Linked DNA regions of Homo sapiens: region 2 is linked to region 1. Evidence: fine-mapped expression QTL. A gene starts in region 1. The other region holds a variant in brackets. All regions are shown on one strand. Distances are from middle to middle.

Region 1 (5,376 bases):
AAGACTTGAAGGCAGAGAGGAACGAAGCAGAGATCAGGGCCTCCCTCTCCTCCCGCCCACCTGCGTCTCGGACAGGCTGAGGGCCGTGGCCAGCTCCACTCGTTCTGGCGTGGACAGGTAGCGCTGGATCTCGAACCTCTTCTCCAAGCCCGAGAGCTGCGAGTCAGAGAAAACCGTGCGGGCTTTGCGGCGGCGGCAGTGCTTCCCCGGCAGCTCCGCGTGCTGCGGGTGCGGGAACAGCGCTGGGACTGGCATCCCTGCAGAGAGAAGAGCAACCAAGTGGGCAGAGCGTGGGTCGCCGGAGAGCAATCTCCGCTCCGCTCCCCTCCCCTCCCCTAGCCCCCAGTGCCTTCCTCCGCCCCTCGCCTCCGTCAGTCTGCTCGCCCCAAAGCCCCTCAAGCCTTTCTCTCAGGAATCCAGGGCAGAGGAAGAAAAAAAAAAAAAGCCGCAAGAATAGCGCTTGGAGATCTTTATCTGGAAAGTCATCTAGAAATACAAACAACAAACAGTAAATAAAACAGAAAAGAAAATCGGAAAATAGATCCGGAGGCTGTTTAAAAATGTCTTCTTGGAGAGACTTCCGTAGGGTCGGCCAGCGCGGAGTCTTCAGTTGCGCCTGGCCAAGTTTTTTGCAAACGTCAAATGGCCCAGGAGCAGTCCTGTCCCCAGCCCCCACCTATCCTCCTAGACCCCTGATGACACTCATTGCTGTTCTGGGGCTGGTAGATGCATGGATATAATCTTGCCTCCAAACCTTACTGAAAAATACCTTTCTGTTTCCCAAGCCACCCCTATCCCCCTGCAGCCAAAGGGAGAGCAAAACTGCCTTATCCGGAGAAGCCCCGGAGCCGAAACAGAGGAGCATTTCTCGCCTCTCACGTCTCCTCGTCCGTTTCGGGGTCGCGCTAGGGACCCAGCTACCTAATATAGTCCTCATTCTTTTTCTCATTCTTTCCCTCTCACTCCAAGCCCAGCGAAGCAGAAGGGTTTGAGGGGTTTTTCCATGGCCGGGTCCGGGGAGACTTGTCTTTCCTGACCCTCGCAGGCTTGACTCTGTCTGAGACGCACCAAGCAGAGAGAAGCTGCCACAAGCAACATCGGCCAATCCCAGAGAAAATAAACAAACATAACAACAACCAGTGCGGGTACTTAGGGCTTTGGCCACTGCTGTATGGGAGGACCACCGGAGCAGCTGAGAATAGATTGTCACCGGCGGGTGGTGAAGCCAGTGCAGAGATGCGGACCTGGATTTACAAACACTTTTAGCTTTGTTCTGGATTCCAGCGCGCACAAACTGCCTCCTGTCTTGCCCCCAGCCCCTCCACCGACCATGGTTGTTGCCGCCTCTGAGCTATGAGTCTGGACTCAACGAATTATTCTATTCTGGCTAGATTGAAAACGCCAGAGAAAAAACCATGGATGTGGCCTTTCAGAGGGAGACAGAAAAAAATCGGAGTATTTCCCCACATCCTCCTGTCCCAAACAGACTTTGCTAGCCCTTGCTTTTTGTCAGACCAGAGAAATCAAAATACTTTAGCACCCGGCTCCAGCAATGCTGGCAGCTGGGGCAGAGGAGGGTAGCCCAGACTAAGATTGTGAGTTAAATGTTAGATGTTGAGGATGCGGAGGGTTAAAGAGCTGCATCTCCCCCTACCCCCCTTTTTTCTCACCCTTTCTGTCTTATTCAGGCTAGCCCAAACCTTCATTCACTTCTATGCCCCCAGCGGTATCTGCAAATGCTCAGTGCCTGGAAAAAAGAGATCTGGCCTGGACAGAGTGTTTTGAGTTTCTGTGCAGAAAAAGTTGTGTCCATGGGGTGGGATGGTCAAGGGTCTCCCTCTGAGTGGGCAGAGGCGGAGAATCAGGATTGAGAGATGGACCAAAGTGGCCAGGAAGATCACGAGCAGGGACACTGAGCACTGCCTACCAAGAGTATCGTCAAACCCTATACGCTGCCTCTTGACCAGGCACCTATCCTCCGCTATGAAGAGTGCGGAGGAATCACGAATTATCCCCGTGGGTTGGCATGCCTCTAGGGAGCTCTGCATGGCCTCAGCAATATCCTCAGCCTTCCACTGTCACTTAGGGAAAGAGGCCACCAAGCCAGGCCGAGCCAGTCTGGCCTTTCCTTGACTCCATCACAGGCTTAGGGTCTGTGCTAGAAGCCCTGCTCTCTCACTGCCCATACCTTGAGGTTCCTGTTACTTACCCGAGGTGGTGAGGAAATAAGGATGATGGTGGTCTCCCTTATGCAGAGGGTGATGGGCGTGAGGAGCCAAGAGGGTGGGTGTGGGCATGAGGGGGTAGCCATAGTCTAGCAGAGGCACCCGAGAGGCCAGAGAGCTGGCGAAATGGTCTGGGGCCACCTCTCTCAGCGGCTTGGGCTTGTGCAGCAGGATGTCCTCGATGAAGAAGGATGTGGGCCTCTGAGAAGACGCCGGGTGTAGAGGAGAGGTGAAGTTGAGATTCATCTTGAGCGGAGCACCTGCCACAGGACAAGGGCCGGGACGAAGTGGAGGACGCAGGCAGAGTCTCCAAGCCTGCTCGAAAGCCGGCAACCACCCTCCGAGGCTCGAATCTCCGCTGCTCTCTCCCGGGCCTGGGCTACCCCGGGCGCTGGAGAGGCAAGAAGACAAGCTCCTGGGTAGGTTGGGTCTCTGTGTTGGAGAATTGGCAGCTTGGAGAGGGGGGCCGGGAGAGCCAATGACGAGGCTGCCAGAGGCAGAGGGGAGGGTGCGGGAGGCTCGGGGCGGGGCGGGGAGCTGTCCGCGGTGCTGAACACCACCGGCCGAGCCTGGGAACAACAGAGCCCGCAGGGTTCTTGTTCCTACCAGGTTTCTCGACCTCAATTTCTGCCCCGTCACTGCAGGGGCTGCTTTGTTCCCAGTCGTTTTTAAAAGAAAGCCAAAAGGAAAAAGTCTCTGTTGTCCGGCAAACTCCTCTTTACAGAGGAGAAGGCACTAAAAGGGCCCCAAAGCAATAATGGATAAAGCACTTATTCAGGCATTTAGGCCTGGGTTTTAAGAGTTTCCATAATTTTGGTGGCAAAAAAAGAAGGGAGGAAGTGAGGAGAAAGGGCATCTGATACTTCAGATTGCTAGATTCTACTTAAGTTTATGGCTGAGGGAAGACTGGATTATTAAGGTAAAGAAAGAAAATGATGATGGTCATCACAACAGTCTTTACCTCAGTTATAGGCAGTGGGCAGGAGGAGGGTTATGTCTACATTAGTCAAGTTATTTGGTCTGTGTAAATATGTCCAGAGTCACCTCTTAGTGCCATCCTCCATGTCGCCTCAAATCTTTGCTTTCTCCTCATTTCACTCACGCGGCTTGCTATTTCTGCTGTTACTCTTTCAACCCTAGCCCCCCGAATTAATTGTACTAGGTTTTTGTTTCCCACTCCTTTTCCCAGCCTGTTTCCTTTCATTTCCGTCCCTCCCAATCTTTTGTTTTTTTCTGTTTGTCTTTTTCTAATCTGTCACATTTATTTCCCTGGAGTCAATTTGCTAAAATTAGGGTGATCATCTACAACACAGCAGGGGTAATTTCAGCTCACATCTCTGAAAATTGCTCTAATTATTGATGTTAAACTCAGGGAAATTAGAAGAAGCCACTTCTCTCCCATCTCCCCATTTTTAAGCTCTAATTTGTTGAAATCTAGTCGTCATCACAATTCCAATCACTACTGCTAATAGTAAAAGTGTTTTAATAGAGACTGAGTCCTCACAACCCATGCTATTAGATAATTAGAGGAGGTGTTAGAAAGCCAAGTGCTAATCCTGGGGCGCATGGGTAGGATTTCCATCTGATCTAGCAGGTAGAACAAATTAATTACCAGAATCAATTAGGCCCCAAACTACAGTGCACCAGGAAGTGGGAGCATTCTATTCCATGAGGATGAACTGGTAAATGGTAAGTAGATGAAGAGCTTGAGAGGAAGGAGGAAGGGATGTGGGGGAGACTTTAAAATAAGATCTTGGCAAGTAGGCATCTAAATGAAATCAGAATGCTTTGATCTGAAGTCCAAAACGTGATTTTTAAAAAATTCTAATAGTAGTAAGAACTGAAGAGGCCCAGCGTGGTGGTTCGCGTCTGTAATCCTAGCACTTTGGGAGGCCGAGGCGGGAGGATTGCTTGAGCCCAGAAGTTCAAAACCACCCTGGGCAATATAGTGAGGCCCCATCTCAGAAAGAAAGAAAGAAAAAGAAAAAGAAAGAAAGAAAGGAGAAGGGAAGGGAAGAAGGAACGAAGGGAGAGAGAGAGGAAGGAAGGAAGGAAATAAAATATGTGTATAAAAGAAAAAGAAAGAAAGGAAAGAAAGAAAGAAAAGAAAAGAAAAGAAAAGAAAAGAAAAGAAAAGAAAAGAAGACCTGAAAGCAGGTGGCCGTGGAGAGCAAGACAATAGACTTTCCAAAAGTCCTTTCCTAGCGCTAAGCCCTGGCCCATCGTCCTCAGTCACCAGACGGAGGAGACTGGTGAGGAGGGGCCAGGGGTGTCGGTCCACACTTCACAGACGTCCACGTACACCCCCGCTTCCATTGTGAGCTTACAGCATCAGCAGAGTAGAAATCAAGCCGTTCTGTCTCTCCACCCTATAGGCCGAGTGGCTATCGAGGGCTGGACGGGTGTACAACCAGAGTGTGGCCTGTGCCTGAGGGCGCCCTACACTCCAGCCTCACACAGAGCGCAGATTTGCACCCAGCCTTGGGGGCGGGATTTCGGCTTCATTCTGGGGAGGGGACCAACTTCTGTCGCAGAAGCAGAAGTGATTATTGAATGTCCCTTTGAGAGCAGGGGCAGTAAAAACATCTTCGAGTGACAGTTACCTTTGAGCCAAGGCACTGCAACCACCCCGTCAGAACTTACACACCTCTCAGAGTGTTTGCGGGATCGGGAAGGGAGTGGGGGGCAATGTAGACCGCCTCCTCCGTCCTTATCTTTCCCTTGTTTCGTGAGCCCTGGACTCAGCGTCCTGCTTTCCCCCAAAGCTAAGGCAATCTCCCCAGGCCCTGCTCTCAGGCGGAGAAGCCAGGAGCGATGAGGGGCGGGGCGGCTCCCGGCGCCCTCTTTTCCAGCCCCGCTCCCGCGCTGCCGCCGGAGAGGGACTCGGGGCGCAGCCGCCCCGCCTCTGCCGGGGCCCCAGGAGGAATCTAAGAAAAGAGAGATGGAGGGAGGAAATGGCATCGCTTCAGGAAGGGGCAGGACCTCCAGGACCGAAGGCGTTTTCTTTCTCTTTCCTTTCAGCGACACTGGGAAACAAAGCTCCGCGGCTGAAAAGAACACCACGCGCGGCCAGGACCCGAGCAGGGCCCTGGGGCGCTAAGGGCGGGGAAAATAGGGCATCCGGAGTGCAGGAGATTCCTCAGGGCCGCCC
Region 2 (5,376 bases), 43 kb before region 1:
ATTAAAAATAATATTTAGTTTTTGGTAGATAGATAGATGATAGATGGGAAATTTCCTCCTATTCCTCTTTGCAAATAACTTCTATCATAAACGAGTATTTGATTTTATCAAATACTTTTTCTGCATTAATTGAAACATTTCTCCATTAATCCTTTAGTGTGATGAAATATGTTAACAGATTTTTCTGATGATGCACTGATTTTTCTGATAACCCTTTTATTCCTAGGGTTAACCCAATTTGTCATACTGCATTTTTAATAAGTTGCTTGATTTGATGTGTTAACACTTTGTTTAAGATTTAACATTTTCATATACATGAAGTGAAATTGGCTTATAATTTTCCTATCTGCCACTGGCCTTGACTGGGTGGATTATCAAGAAAATACCAGCCTTATAAAATGAGTTGAGGACTATTTCCTCTTTTTGCATCCTCTGGGACACTTTATATACAATTGGCCTTACCTGTTACTTGAAGGTTTGATAGAATTTTCCTCTAAAACTATTGGGCCATTGGTGGGTTTTGTTTGGCTTTTTGTTGTTGTTTGTGAGCAGATTTTAAACTCCTGATGCATTTACTATAATCATTATAAGACTTTGCAGTCTTTTCATTTTCATTTTAGTCAGTTTAATACATTATATTTTTCTAGGAAAAATTTTCCTTTTATGCTGTCTTAAAATGTACTGTCATAAAGCTTTTTGTAGTATTTAAATAACTTTAATATTATTCCACCTTTATTATATCTATAATCATGTCCCTCTTTTCATTTCTTTTTTTTTTTTTTTAATTTTTTTGGCAGCCTCAACCTCCTGGGCTTCTTTTGCTTAATTCTCTCTGTACATATAGCTAATTGATCCTACGCTTATGAGTAGCCTTTTAGTATAAGTTTCCATAAGGACAACCCCATCGGGCAATTTCTCAATTCTTCTCTCTTTCTTGGAGCCAGACTTTGTAGACACCTTTACTTTCTTTCTCTTTCGAGACTTGCTTCACAGCTGTCCTGGCTGAGGATTCCCTTTGCCTTTCTTCTGATAGGATTCTCTTTTTCAGTATCTCACATTTTCCTTATTTTGTTTGAGCACCCCTTCCGGCATTTCTTTCAGATTGAAAATGTGGTACAAGGACAGGGGACAGGGTGATGGGCAGTTCTCAGCGTGCCAGTGTCCTGTGCCACACCTGTTTTCTGACTGCGTTCCGCTGTTGTTGTGCTCATATTATCCTTAAGAATCTCCATGCCCTCATGGAGACCCTCTTCACTCTTCTCCTTCGTCACCCTTCCCGTTTTTTCCATCCCCGTTCTCTTTCTTAGTTTCGTCTCTAATTTTGATAGAGAACATCCTCCATTGCTTGAGAGGTAAATGTTTTGAGATCTTGCTGAAATTATCTTTCTTCTGCCCTCGCCCCTGATTGGTAGCTTGGCAGAGGATTGTAGAATTCTAGATGGAAAATCATTGTCCCTCAGAATTGCCTTCTTGCATCCAGTGTTGCTGTTGAGAAATCTGAAGCCACCTTATTCCTGATCCTTTGTATATAATCTGTTTTTTTTGTTGTTGTTTTTTGTTTTTTGTTTTCTGGAAGCTTTAGGATCTTTTCTTTTTCTCTACTGAAGTGAAATTTCATAATATTGCGCCTTTGTATAGGTCTGTTTTCATAGATTGAGCTGGGGCCTTTAAACCTGAAAACATATGACCTTCAGTTCTGGGAAAATTTCTTGAGTCATCTTTATGGGTAGTTCCTTTCAACCATTTTCTGTTTGCTCTTTCTAGAAACTCCTGTGATTCAGATGCGTTTTTCCAGGACCGTTATTATGATTTTGTTTTCTCTTTCTTTCTCCATTTCTTTCTAATTTTGTTCTACTGTCTGGGAGGGTTTCTCAGTCCTAGCTTCCAGCCTTTCTACTGCTATCATGTTTGTTAATTTCCGACAGGATTTTTTTGTTGTTGTTTCTGTTATTGGTTTCTGAATGCTCCTCGTTTTATAGCCTCATGTTTTTGTTCATGGATACAACATCCTTTTTTCTCAACGTCTTCTTAGATTTTCAACAAGGCAAAATAGGGTGTAAGGGCCCTTGTGACTGAATTTTTAAGTGTTTTTAATTCCCTGCTTTGCTTCTCTTTCCTCTAGGTCTTTGTCAGTGATGTTTGTTTCTCTTCTCCTATTTTGCTGCCTTCCACCTTAGGGCTTGTGTCAGATGTCTAGCAATTCTTGATCATCTTCTCATGATCAAGTATGAGGGACTAGAAAGCTTATTGGAAGCTCTGAGTGACAGTGCTTGTTGACTTTGAGTGCCTATAGAATGATCTTTGGGTGCCATGTGATAGGAAGCCCTTCCTGTAGGTTTTAGGTCTTTTCTCTTGGTGGTCAGATTTATTATCTGTGCTTGGTGCTTCACAGGCAGAAGACTTGTTGGCTTCTTCAGAATGAAAACCTCCAGCGAGCTGCGGAGAGAGGGAAGGGACAGTTGCCTAGGTGCACAAAATGGAGAAGATGATCTGGAGATCCGCCTGCTTCTTCTTTTTTTTTTTTTTTTTCCGGAGACGGAGTCTCACTCTGTTGCCAGGCTGGAGTGCAGTGGCACGATCTCAGCTCACTGCAACCTCTGCCTACCGGGTTCAAGCGATTCTCCTGCCTCAGCCTCCTGAGCAGCTGGGACTACAGACGCCCATCACCACGCCTGGCTAGTTTTTGGATTTTTGGTAGAGACAGGGTTTCACCATGTTGGCCAGGATGGTCTCGATCTCCTGACCCCGTGATCCACCCACCTCGGCCTCCCAAAGTGCTGGGATTACAGGCGTGAGCCACCGCACCCAACCCTGACTGCTTCTTAAACAGACTTTCAACCAAATCTTTTTTAAGTAACTCTCACATAGACTTTCA[C/G]CACCGCCACTCCCACTTACAGCTCATGAGCCTTACAGGATTCTATGGTGTAAACTGTGGCTTCTCTGCTTTCCCTGCTGCTAACTTAGATTCCACTTTTTTGAGTCTGCTAAGATAGTTACCATTCAACCATCTGTTCTCTGCTTCCGAAATATTTGCTCTTTTCCCCCCATTTTGTTCTCTTTATCTTCGTGGGTTGATGTCTTTTAAAAATCTCTTTATATATAATTTTGATTTGCATTTGAGAGTTAAATTGCATGCTTATTCTGCCACGTTTTTTCTACCACCTTTTCATTTTGAAATTGTTCACACCTAGTAAAAACTTGGGGGAAAATATCTACAATAAACACCTGTAGTCCTTCATCTAGATTCATCAGTGCTAAAATTTTGCAACATTTTCTATCTATTTACTGAATCATTTGAAAGCAAGTTCAGAATCACAATATTTTATCTCTAAATATTTCAACATTCAGCCCCTAAGAATAAGGACATTGTCTTATACAACAATCACACCATTATCACAGCTAAGAATATTAACGTTATTGTACACAATATCATGTAGTATCAGTACATTTTTAAATTGTATTACTTGTCTCCAAAAAGCCTTTTACAGCTTTTTTTTTTTTAAATTCCTGATCCAGTATTCAGTGTTCATACATTTCATTTACTTTTTGTCCCTTTAATTAAAAAAAAAAAAATCTAGAACAGACTGGGCATGGTGGCTCACACCTGTAATCCCAGCACTTTGGGAGGCCAAGGCGGTGGATCACTTGAGGTCAGGAGTTCGAGACCAGCCTGGCCAACATGGTGAAACTCCCACTCTACTAAAAATACAAAAATTTGCTGGGTGTGGTGGCAGGCTCCTGTAGTCCCAGCTACTCGGGAGGCTGAGGCAGGAGAATCTCTTCAGCCTGGGAGGCAGAGGTTGCAGTGAGCTGAGATCCTGCCACTGCACTCCAGCCTGGGCAACAGAGTGAGGTTCTGTCTCAAAAAAAGAAAAAAAAATCTAGAACAAATTATCCAATGCTCACTTTTCATTGTTTTCTATAACATTGCCTTTTTAGAAAAAATTTATTGTTTTTGGATAGTTATATTTAGGTTGACCATTTCAGGCAAGAATACTACTTGGGTGATTTGGTGTACTTTTTATTACATTATACCAGGGGATACATACTATCAGGCTATCATATTATTGGTGATGCTAAGTTAAACCTTTTGATTAAGGTAGCGACTACCAGATCTCCCCATTGTAAAGGAACATTTTCCCTTTATAAGTAATTATTAATATTCGAGACAGTGTAATTATCCTAGTTTTCAACAGCTTTTTGTACAGTGGTTTTAGCATCCACTGACAGTGCTTACCTAAATCATCCATTACACTGGGGTTGCAAAATGGTGATTTTGTAATTCTATCAATACCTATACATTTATTACATGGCTGTTGAAATAAGACCTTTTCCTCTTCCTTTTTCTCCTTCCTTCCTTCCTTCCTTCCTTCTTTATCTCTCTCTCTCTCTCTCCCTCTCTCTCTAGTATCATTATGGACTCATAAATCTTTTCCTATAAACATGTTAAAGTCTATTACCATCATTATACTGTATATGTTCTCACTGTCTTGGATTTGAGCAGTGGGAGCCCCTTCACTCCAGTTCCTGGGTCCTTTTGATGTAACATCTTTTGTCTTCGAGCACTTCTTTGTTTTCTGGCATAGTAATATGTTCTAGGTTTACCTTTGGACTTCCCCTGAACTCATGTGGAAGCATCAGTTTCTCCAAAAAACCCTAATTCTTTTTAGTAGGGAATGGAATTTAGAAACCAAGATTTGAGAGCTATGTGTTCTCATTGCTACTGAAATGTTATTGCTTCTAGACTCAAGATCTCAGCAGTTAGAGCTAGAAAATACCTGTACCTGAACCTCTTTCTATAATTATGCCTATGCCAATACATATTTCTGTATACTAGTGGGGTCACACAGATACCTCAAATCCAACAGCTCTGGGTTCTTCCTCATGCTTCTCCTTTTCCATATTTGTATCTCCTTTTTCCAACAGTGAAAACCTTAGTTTACCAAAACATCAATATGTTTACACATTTACCCTTCCCTACAGTATATGTACAAATAGTTTTATAATTACAATGCCAGTACCACTACCAAACAGTCAGTCTAAGTAAAGCTCATGATTTCTTTGCCATTCTTTTTCCTCCCTCTATATTCTTCTAAGGGTGTACAACCAAACTACATTGACTCAAAATTACTTCATAAATTAATTCTTTTCTCTTGGTAGAGGTAATCAGTTTAACATACAGTTAAATTCATTTGTTTTGCTTTGTATTCAGTGTTAGGATTTTCTTTTCTTCTCATTGATTTTAAATTTTATTTTATTTTTTGAATATGTAAAACATTACATGGTAACCAGCTGCTTGTAGGATGTGTGACTGCAGGTCACTGTGTGTGCCTCCTGTTTGGTAAGGACCATGACAAGAAATAGAAATTCCCTTTT

Which allele goes with the higher level. Alleles are on the strand shown, and positions count from the first base shown. SD is a standard deviation of normalised expression in the study named.
With allele C in place of G in region 2, the expression in testis of the gene that starts at base 2,634 in region 1 is lower (large effect, 0.91 SD a copy in GTEx).

Evidence for each region. PIP is the estimated chance that this variant, and not a neighbour inherited with it, causes the effect.
Region 2: its variant is fine-mapped to the expression of BSX in testis (GTEx, PIP 0.96).

Annotation. Positions count from the first base shown.
Region 1 is chr11:122,979,201-122,984,576 of GRCh38, forward strand. BSX (brain specific homeobox) reads right to left here and starts at 2,634. Exons shown (of 3, transcript NM_001098169.2): 1 at 2,210-2,634; 2 at 61-257. The coding sequence starts at 2,471. RefSeq lists enhancers at 1-96, 1,940-2,442.
Region 2 is chr11:122,936,475-122,941,850 of GRCh38, forward strand. The region is part of intron 5 of JHY (junctional cadherin complex regulator); the gene reads left to right. Among named protein-coding and RNA genes, the nearest start is that of BSX, 43 kb to the right of the region's middle. The variant C/G (reference allele first, on the strand shown) is at 2,876.